3 linked regions of the Homo sapiens genome follow. The protein of the gene in region 1 purifies or fractionates together with the protein of each later gene. This does not show direct contact. Each region holds a gene or a part of one and is shown on either strand. Other genes may lie near its edges.

Region 1 (3,652 bases):
ATAATTATAAAAAAGAAATATTTATTAAGCACCTACTCCATGCCAGATACTGAGCAGCATGCTGGGAATGCAAAGATGAACAAGACCTGACCACCATGCTGACTTTCAAACCCTGTGATTTGGTAATGGGAGAAAGACAAGTACCAGTCAATACAGGTGTGGTCATTCTAGGATAGAAATCACTAGAGGTGGGGCTGGGTGTGGTGGCTCATGCTTGTAATCCCAGCACTTTGGGAGGCCGAGGTGGGCGGATCACGAGGTCAGGAGATTGAGACCATCCTGGCTAAGATGGTGAAACCCCGTGTCTACTAAAAATACAAAAAATTAGCCTGTAGTCCCAGCTACTTGGGAGGCTGAGGCAGGAGAATGGCATGAACCCGGGAGGCGGAGCTTGCAGTGAGCCGAGATCACGCCACTGCACTCCATCCTGGGCAAAAGAGCAAGACTCCGTCTGGAAAAAAAAAAAAAATCACTAGAGGGTACCATGAAAGCTCATAAGAGGGGACATTTCATCCACATTGGCGCTGAATCTGGGATGTGCCCCTGGAAGAAGGGTTTCCTGAGAGTTTTAAAGGACACGTAGAAATTAGCCAGGAGGACAGTGTGGGGGTTGACTTGTGTCTGAGGACCCTGCATTTCTTCAGAGTGGATGTAAGAAGGATTTGGGGAGTGATGTGGAACTGCAGGGGCTACAGGGCCAGGTGGGGCCCCTGCTAAGGGGCTCTTAGCTTTTATCCTGTGGATAGGTGGGGGCCTTTGGAGAATTAAGCAGGGAAGTAATATGATTAGGAAGATGATTCTAGTGGCAAAGTAGAGAATGGGTTGCAGAGGGGCAGGGCCAGAGGCAAGAGAACCAAGGAAGAAGCTTATGCAGTTGATCAAGTAAGATATTCGGATGTCATGAAGAAAGCAGACTTGAGAAAGAATGAAGTGGAATAGATGAGTTGTGACCTCCTGGACATTGGAGAGAGGTAGGAGTCAAAGAGGTTTGTGGCTAGGATGGCTGTGGGTGGGTGATGTTACTGTTCACTGGATGGAGACTGCAAAAGCAGGGGCTTTCTGGTCAGGGAAGATGATGAATTCAGCGTTGGACATGTTGATTCTGTTGTTGTTGTTGTTATGGAGCTTCACTCTTGTTGCCCAGGCTGGAGTGCAATAGTGGTGTGATCTTGGCTCACTGTAATCTCTGCCTCCTGGGTTCAAGCGATTCTCCTGCCTCAGCCTCCTGAGTAGCTGGGATTACAGGCATGCTCCACCACGCCTGGCTAATTTTGTATTTTTAGTAGAGACAGGGCTTCTTTCATGTTAGGCTGGTCTTGAATTCCCGACCTCAGGTGATCCACCCACTTTGGCTCCCAAAGTGCTGGGATTACAGGCGTAAGCCACCATGCCCAGTTGACATGTTGATTGTTGATTTCAAAGTACCTTCTGGATCTCCTGGCACCATCTCTCACTGGCTGAACTCCAACCAGGGAGCCCGCTGATGCAGTCCATTCAGATTCTCCCTGGATCTCAGGGAGCACAGCAGGGAGGGATGGAAAGTGGATTTGGAGGGACAAACAGATTATATCTAGCAGATTAATACATGTTATAAAAAAGATACACAAAATAAGGATTGAAATACCATTAGCAGGCCAGGCACAGTGGTTCACACCTGTAATCCCAGCACTTTGGGAGGCCAAGGCGGGCAGATCACGAGGTCAGGAGATCAAGACCATTCGGGCTAACACAGTGAAGCGCCATCTCTACTAAAAATACAAAAAATTAGCCAGGCATGGTGGCAGGCACCTGTAGTCTCAGCTACTCGGGAGGCTGAGGCAGGAGAATGGGGTGAACCCGGGAGGCGGAGCTTGCAGTGAGCCGAGATCGCCCACTGCTATTAGCAGCAAAAGGATTGTAAGGATTGTTGGTGGCTTTGCATTGCATAGTGTTATTAGAGTCAGATTCTCCTCCATACTTAGGTATTTTTTGAGGGCCTGTACTTTACCCTCAATGGACATGAGACATAGTTCTTGCTTTTGGAGAGTTTTGTGAGGGTTATAATACATCATGGTTAAATAGTTCCCTTTTTTTTTTTTTTTTTTTTTTTTTTGAGACAGAGTTTTGCCCTGTCACCCAGGCTAGAGTGCATTGGCGTGATCTCCACTCACTGCAACCTCCGTTTCCTGGGTTTAAGCTATTGTCCTGCCTCAGCCCCCCTAATAGCTAGGACTACAGGCACGTGCCACCATGTCCGGCTATTTTTTTGTATTTTTGGTAGAGACAGGGTTTTGCCATGTTGTTCAGGCTGGTGTCAAACTCCTGGCTTCAAGCAATCCACCTGCGTTGGGTGTCGGCCTCCCAAAGTGCTGGGATTACAGGCGTGAGCCACCATGCCCAGCCATGGTTAAATAGTTCTGATAGTGGTTATCTCTGTGTAGGGAATCTGAGTGACTGGAGGACCGGGAAGGGAAGTTTTTTTTTTTTTTTTTTTTGAGACAGAGTCTCGCTCTACCCAGGCTGGAGTGCAGTGGCGCAATCTCGGCTCACTGCAAGCTCCGCCCCCTGGGTTCATGCCATTCTCCTCCCTCAGTCTCCCAAGTTGCTGGGACTACAGGCGTCCGCCACCACGCCTGGCTAATTTTTCTATTTTTTTAGTAGAGACGGGGTTTCACCGTGTTAGCCAGGATGGTCTCGATCTCCTGACCTCGTGATCCACCTGCCTCGGCCTCCCAAAGTGCTGGGATTACAGGCGTGAGCCACCGTGCCCCGCCAAGATTTTTTTTTTGACTTAATTTTCCTTTGTTCGTTTGGATTTGTATCATGACTGTATTATCTATTCAAAAATATAAATTGAAGTTTTAAAAAGCAATCTTAGTGATCATATAATTAAGTACCAAAGTGAACGGTATGGACCAGAGGTAGTGGTGGACTGTTGACCTGTGGGCTGAATCTGGCCCTCAGAAGGGTTTTATTTCACCGACATGGGGCCTAGCATTTTCTTTCATGGAGTGATCAACAAGTCATAAAGGCAGATTTATTGGAGGCCATGGAGGCTCAGAGGTGACTGAGGCTTTGCTGTTTGGTGCCTGGGAGGAAAACTTGTGTGACGGGGCAATCAGGAAGCCTCATTTATGGCCAGTTAGATTTGGGTGACTGGTGAGGCATGAGAATGGAAGGGACCAGCAGGCAGCTTGGAAGTCAGAATCTGGTGCAGGTGAGCAGCCAGGGGGAGATGCACACTTGGCGGTTGTCAGCATGGAGATGCATTGGGCAGGGATAAGGTGGAAATCCAGCAAGATAGGAATTTGGGCCATGTGAATGCTGGAGACCCCCCTGCCACTTCCCCTGCTCAGGCCTATTCTATGTGAATAGACAAGTTCTGTGAACAAGAAAGAGGGAAACGCAGAAGGGCAAAGACAGCTTTGAGGAACATGGAGCAGGGATGAGAAAAATCAGAGGAGCCACTAAAGGAGAAAGGGAAGCACTAGGCGAAAAGCGGGGCGGAGAGCCAGCAGGTGAGCAGCTCTGTGACTGCCCCTCCTGGATGGCCTGTAATCTAGGGCCAGAAGAGTTTTATTTTCAGGTTCAAAGAGAAAGGACCCATTTCCCCATCTTAACCCTCTTTTTTATTTTTTTGAGATGGAGTTTTGCTCTTCTTGCCCAGGCTGGA
Region 2 (3,652 bases), on another chromosome or scaffold:
TCAGAAATGCAAAGTCTCTTATCTGTCATACACACTTTATTGGAAAGCTACAGAAGAATATCCTCCACCAAAATAAGGAAATGAATCACAAAAGGAAAAGACATGGGAACCCAGGAGACAGGTAGTCTAACATGGGAGAGGCAAAGACCATGGGGAAGGACAAATGCTAGTCAACATTTGTGCAGCCAGACTAGAAAGCAACTAGGCAGGACTATAGCAAAAGACTGAATTGCTCCAGGAAAGTTATTGCAAGGAAAAATGAAACTGGTAGACTGGTTTTGCCTAGAATTTGGGAACAGATATCTAGGATATCTATTAAAGGATATTTTTAAAAAGTAATAATTTTTAAAAGGCAGTTATTAATTTAAAGATGAAGAAATGGGAAAAAAGACAATCATATAATGTACTTAAAGGGCTCAGCTGTGGGTAATTTTTATAGCAATAATAACATCAAAGATGTTAAAGTACTAGGTGCTAGTAGAACTGTGAGGGCAGCTGTTTGCTTTATAGGACACAAATGAGAAAATGTGGTGTATATATACATCATAGAATACTAAAAAAGAATGAAATCATGTCCTTTGCAGCAGCTGCTGGAGACCATTATCCTAAATGAAATAACTCAGAAACAGAAAATCAAATACTGCATATTTTGACTTATAAGTAGGTGCTAAGCAAAGGGTACGCCTTTGTGGATAGAACGCCAAAAGGGAGACGCCAAAAGGGAGGAGGATAGGAAGGGGTTGAGGGTGGAAAAATTACCTATTGGGTACAATATTCATTATTTGGGTGATGGGTTCACTAGAAGCCCAAACCTCACCATTATGTAATTTACCCATGTAATAAACCTGCATATGTACTCTCTGAATCTAAAATAAAATTAAGAAAAATAAAAAGTCAAAGAATTTGAATAGATATTTCTTCCAAAAAAAAAAAAACCCATAAATGGCCAATAAGCCATAAAAAGATGTTCAATGTCATGTGCCATCTGGAAACACAAATCTAAACCTCAATGAGATACCATTTCATCCCAGTAGAATGGCTACTGTAAAAAAGACAGTCAATAAAAAGAGTTGACAAGGACATGGAAAAATAGGAACTCTTATACATTGTTTGGCATTTAAAATGGTACAGTTGCTTTGGGAAACAGTTTGGCAGTTGCTAAAAAAAGTTAAACCTACAGTTATCTTATGACCCAGAAATTCTACTACTAGGTATATACTCAAGACAAATGAAAACATGTTCACACAAAAACATGTATGCTAATGTTCATGGTAGTATTATTCATAATAGTGAAAAAGTAGAAATAACCTAAATGTCCATGAACTCATGAACGGGGAAGTAAAATGTGAAATATCCTTATTAATAAGAGCTTAATTAGCTCTTAATAAGCTAACGCAGGCTGATGCAGTGGCTCACGCCTGTAATCTCAGCCCTTTGGGAAGCTGAGGTGGGTGGATCGCTTGAGCACAGGAGTTCAAGACCAGCCTGGCCAACATGGTGAAACCCTGTCTCTACTAAAAAATACAAAAAATTAGCTGGTGTGGTGGTGGGCACCTGTAATCCCAGCTACTTGGGAGGTTGAGGCAGGAGAATTGCTTGAACCTGGGAGGTGGAGGTTGCAGTGAGCCGAGATGGTGCCACTGCACTCCAGCCTGGGTGACATCGAGATTCCATCTCAAACAAAACAAAACAAAACAAAACAAAACCAGCCTGGGCAACATGGCCAAACCCTGTATCTACAAAAAATAAAAAAATTAGCCAGGCGTGGTGGAGGGTGCTTGTAGTCCTAGCTACTCGGGAGGCTGAGGTGGGAGGATCTCTTGAGCTTGGGAGGCAGAGGTTGCGGCGAGCCAAGATGACACCACTGCACTGCAGGCTGGGTGACAGAGTGAGACCCTGTCTCAAAACAAAACAAAACAAAACAAAACAAACAAACACACCCAAAAAAGGCCGAGCGTGGTTGCTCATGTTGCTCATGCCTGTAATCCTAGCACTTTGGGAGGTCAAGGCAGGCAGATCACCTGAGGTCAGGAGTTTGAGACCAGCCTGACCAACATGGAGAAACCCCATCTCTACTAAAAATACAAAATTAGCCGGGCATGGTGGTGCATGCCTGCAATCCCAGCTACTCGGGAGGCTGAGGCAGGGGAATTGCTTGAACCTGGGAGGCAGGGGTTGTGGTGAGCCGAGATTGCGCCACTGCACTCTGCCCTGGCCAACAATAGCGAAACTCCATCACCAAAAAAAAAAAAAAAAAAGAGATTGAAGCTGGTGACTTTGAGTTGAAGCCAATAATTTGTCATTCCAAAATCCTAGGACCCTTAAGAATTATGCTAAGTCTACTCTACCTGTGCTCTACAAATCAACAAAGTGCATCTGTTTAAAGCATGGTTCGCGGATATTTTAAGCCCACTGTTGAGATCTGCTCAGAAAAAAAAAGATTCCTTTCAAAATATTACTGCTCACTGACAACACACCTCATCACCCAAGAGCTCTGATGGAGATGTAAAAGGAAATTAATATTGTTTTCATGACTGCCAATACAACATCCATTTTGCAGCCCCGCAGGTCAAGGCCAAGTAGTAATTTTGGCTTTTAAGTCCTTTTTTTTTGAGACAGGGCCTTGTTCTGTCACCCAGGCTCGAGTGCAGTGGTACGATCATGGCTTACTGAAGTCTCGATCTTCTGGGCTCAAGCGATCCTCCCACCTCAGCCTCCAAAGTTGCTGGGAGCACAGGCGCATGCCACACATTGAGCTAATTTTTGTACTTTTTGTAGAGACAGGTTTTGCCATGTTGCCCAGGCTGGTCTTGAACTCCTGACTCAAGCAATCTGCCCACCTCAGCCTCCCATAGTGCTGGGATTAGAGGTGTGAGCCAGACTTCTAAGTCTTATTTAAAAGACTCATAAGGCTATAGCTGCCATAGACAGTGATTCCTCTGATGAATTTAGGCAAAGTAAATTGAAAACCTCCTGGGAAGGATTCACCATTCCAGATGCCATTCAGAGAATTCAAGAGAGGAGGCCAAAATAGCAACAATAACAGGCATTTGGAAGAAACTTATTTGAACACTCATGGATGACTTCGAGGGGTTCAAGACTTCAGTGGAGGAATTAACTGCAGATACGTGGAAAGTGCAAGTGAAACTAGGATAAGAAGTGGAGCCTTAAGATGTGACTGAATTGCTGCAATCTCGATAAAACTTAAATGCATGAGGAGTTGCTTCTCATGAATGAGCAAAGAAAGTGGATTCTTGAGTTTATGAAGATCATCACTCACATCACTTCACCCCTGGTGAAGATGCTGTAAACATTGTTGAAATAACAACAAAGGATTTAGAATATTATATGAACTCAGTTGATAAAGTAGTGGCTGGGGTTGAGAGGATTGAATCCAATTTGAAAGATGCTCTACTGTGGGTAAAATGCTATCAAACAGCATTGCATGCTACAGATAAATCTTTTGTGTGTGAAAGAGTCAATCAATGTGGTCAACTTTACTGTAGTCCTATTTTAAGAAATTGTCACAGTCATCTTAACCTTTAGCAACCACCAATCTGATCAATTAGCAGCCATCAACATCGAGGCAAGATCTTTCATCAGCAAAAAGATTACAACTTTCTGAAAGCTCAAATAATTGTTAGCATTTTAT
Region 3 (3,752 bases), on another chromosome or scaffold:
GTGTATTTAAGGTATGCATTTCATTTTTACCTTAAAAAATCCTTAATTTGAACTCCAATGATGTGCATTAGAGGTACTTAGAAGCGTACTGTCTGCAGTTTACTTTTAAATGTATGAAAACAGATAGATTGATGAGGTATGTGACAAAGCTGGTAGAGTAAAATTCTGTACTCTCCAGGTCAGTGTTTTTCAACCTCAACACTATCAACATTTTGGACCAGCAAATTTGTTGTTGTCGGGGGATGTCCTGTTCATTGTAGGAAGTTGAGGAACATCCCTGTGCTCTACCTACCCCATGCCAATACCATCCTTCCAGTTGTGACAACCCAAAATGTCTTCAGACACTGCTAAATAGAGGGGAAATCCATCCTTCCCCTTCTCTTGAGGTCTGCTCCACTGTAAAATTCTCTCGACTTCGCTTTACACTTGAATTTTTTCATAATAAATGTTGGAGGAAAAAATAAATTATGACATTGAAAAACGCTCATGAAACACTATGCAGAAGACGTAGTTTATGAAGACCTACAATACATACTGTCGTATTTTTGTTTAAAAAAAAAAAGTGGAGGGGAGACCTAGCAGTGATATTTAGTATTGCTAAATGTCAATGTTTACAAATCTTATCTATGACATTTCTAAAATGAATATTATAAAGTGTATTGCATATAGTTGGATTGGGAAGAAAAACATTTCTAATTATTCTCCTGTCAGCATCTCCTTCAAACTACCCTTTTATTAACAGGGATAGATATGCATTCACACGGTTCCTCCCAGCTTGGTTAATGGGCAAGAACACCTAAGATAGCCAAGGCCACCATGCATCCAGGCTCACATCTCCCTAATTGCCCTCCTCCATGATTCAGGGACAAGGAGGATCACCATCGTGTGGGAAGATACTAGAAATGTAGAATTTGGAACCCCACCCCTACCTACGGAATCCTGATCTGCACTTCAACAGGATCCCCGAACTATTCCTAGGCGCGTTCGAATTTGAGGAACATTAACGGACCAATTCTTTGTCCCTGAAAAGTGCCCGTTATAGAGGCGGCCGCTGGGAAATGACAACGGGGTTGGCATGGAGAGGTATTAAGTAGAAAAACTCCGGCCGGGCACGGTGGCTCAGGCCTGTAATCCCAGCACTGTGGGAGGCCGAGGCCGGTGGATCACCTGAGGTCAGGAGTTCGAGACCAGCCTGGCCAACATGGTGAAACCCCATTTCTACTGAAAAATACAAAAATTATCTGGGCATGGTGGTGGGCGCCTGTAATCCCAGCTACTCGGGAGGCTGAGGCAGGAGAATCGCTTGAACCCAGGAGGCGGAGGCTGCAGTGAGCCGAGATCGCGCCACTGCACTCCAGCTTGAGAGACACAGCGAGACTCCGTCTCAAAAAAAAAAAAAAGGAAGAAAGAAAGAAGAAGAAGAGAACTCTGCGACTGAAAAGTACCTAGCAGGGACAACGCATTCCCTACGTCCTTCCAAGTGCAGACACCAACACCGGCGGACGCGGCTCCCAACAGGCGAGCCCCAGCTTCCGGTCCGCGGCCTTGGACGCGCATGCGCCGCATGCTTTTTTTTTTTTTTTCCGGTAGGTCGCCAGCTGAGGCGGTTTGTAAGTTTTGGGTCGCAGTATGCTAGAATTTTGAGGCTCCCTTCTGATGAAAATTGAGCTGTCCATGCAGCCATGGAACCCGGGTTACAGCAGTGAGGGGGCCACGGCTCAAGGTGAGTCTCGCCTCAGCTAGCGCCAGTGGTGACCGCCACGGGGGTTTCCCACGCTGCAGCGCCCAGTGCAACCCTTTGGGAACGTGCCCGGCATGGCGGCCCCGGTTCCCCTCACTGCATGCGCCCATCGGTCGGCTCGGTCCTCGGCGTTGCTTCCCGGCTTCTGCAGCCCTGCTCCAGCCGGGGACCTCGCCCCGGGGGCAATCAGGGTGCGAGGGCGGCTGCGTGCTGGGCTTTCTTCCTGAGAGCGTCTTGGCTTGGGTCGCGGGGTACCCTGCTCTGTTCTTCAAAAAAAAATCTGCAAGGAAAAGATATTATTCCACTCAGAAATCTCAAGTTTCAGTCTGCGTTCTCTTAAATATATTTTATTTTTTAAAAAAATAATAAAGGCGAGCTCTTACTATGTTACCCAGGCTGATCTTGAACTCCTGGGCTCAAGCAGTCCCCCTTCCTCTGCCTCCCAAAGTGCTGGGATTACAGGCGTGAGCAATCGCGCCCGGCCACAGTCTATTATCTTACAGCATTCGCTGAAATCTTGAATCATAAAATTATCTTGAGGGTTTTTTGGAAGGACTGAAATCTCTTAAGCGAAAATAATTTGGCAGATAAATGACCTGTGACATCACTCCCGTAGTTGTCCGTTCAAGAGTCCCTCCGTCCCGTTCTTCTTTGCTAATCCCATTTCATCTTCGATACCTCCAATTCAATAGCACCCTCTCCCAACTTTACTCACTCCCTGGGAGACTTTAAACAAATATATAGTTCCAAATAAGTGTTGACTCCCAAGATTATATATCTAGCTGAGTCTCTCGTAGACTTCAAAACTATACATCTAACTGCCTGCTAGACCTCTCTATTTAACAGGTGTCTTAGTAGGCACTTCATTACTTGTGTCTAAAACCAAGCTTCAGCTCCCCATGACCATCAACGTCTAAATAAATGGCAGATCCATACTTTCAGTACCTTAAAGCCCCGGAGTCATTCTTCCGTGTCTCATGTAATTCATCTGTAAATCCTGTTGCCTCTGTTCTCTGCATGTATCCAGAACCTGAAGCTCACCAACTTGACCACTATAATCCTATCAAAGCCACCATCATCTCTCCCTAGTTATTGCGGTGTCTATATCTGGTCACCCCACTTTTCCTTTCACTTTTCTCCATAGCAGCAAGTGTGGGGATCTTCATAAGTCAAACCTCTCTTGTAGCTCTTACATGTCAGTCGGGATAAAATTCAAAATTCTGGCCATGCTTTACTAGTCCCAACATAAACTGCCCCACATTTCCTTACTAAACTCTTCTATTCCCCGTGTCCTCAGCTCACTGTGCTCTGGCCAGCTGTTCTAGCACCCTCCTTCCTCAAGGCCTTTGAATATGCTGTTCGCTTTCCCTTGAACACTCTTGGCCAAGAAAAACACATGGCCTCCTTTTTCAGTTCCTTAAAGTCTCTTCCCTACAGTCACCTTAGGAGAAAGGCCTTTCCTGACAATGCTGTGTGCAGTCTCACCCCTGCTGCCTCATTGTTTCCCTTATCCTTGTTTTCTTTTTCAGGTTTCTTCATAGCAGTTATTCACTGGGTACAAAAATTCTTTTTTGTTTTTTTTTGAGACAGTCTTGCTCTGTTGCTCTGGCTGGAGTGCAGAGGTATGATCTTAGCTCACTGCAACCTCCGCCTCCCCAGTTCAAGCGATTCTCCTGCCTCAGCCTCCCTAGTAGCTGGGACTACAGGCGTGGGCGACCACACCTGGCTAATTTTTGTATTTTTAGTAGAGATGGGGTTTCATCATGTTGGCCAGGCTGGTCTCAAACTCCTGACCTTAGGTGATCCGCCCACCTCATCCTCCCAAAGTGCTGGGATTACAGGCGTGAGCCACCACCGCACCTGGGCTGGGCGTATAAATTTGTTTTTGATGTCATGGTATCCTCCCACCAGTAGAGTTGTTTTATTACTTTCATTCATTGTTATCTTAGTGCCAGTGCTTGAACGTAAGTGCTTGAGAAACATTTGTTGAAATGATGACCAATAATAATAA

Evidence for each region.
Region 2: the proteins of ATF6B (region 1) and LYRM7 purify together in Homo sapiens (affinity purification with mass spectrometry; 3 studies listed by BioGRID and IntAct, with this or other methods). This does not show direct contact.
Region 3: the proteins of ATF6B (region 1) and RWDD2B purify together in Homo sapiens (affinity purification with mass spectrometry; 3 studies listed by BioGRID and IntAct, with this or other methods). This does not show direct contact.

What each region holds. Positions count from the first base shown.
Region 1 is NC_000006.12:32,121,668-32,125,319, reverse strand, and holds part of ATF6B (cyclic AMP-dependent transcription factor ATF-6 beta), read left to right. Parts: intron 1-3,652.
Region 2 is NC_000005.10:131,173,804-131,177,455, reverse strand, and holds part of LYRM7 (complex III assembly factor LYRM7), read right to left. Parts: intron 1-3,652.
Region 3 is NC_000021.9:29,017,182-29,020,933, reverse strand, and holds the start of RWDD2B (RWD domain-containing protein 2B), read left to right. Parts: upstream 1-1,584; 5' UTR 1,585-1,656; coding exon 1,657-1,723; exon of another isoform or gene 1,724-2,021; intron 2,022-2,686; exon of another isoform or gene 2,687-3,348; intron 3,349-3,752.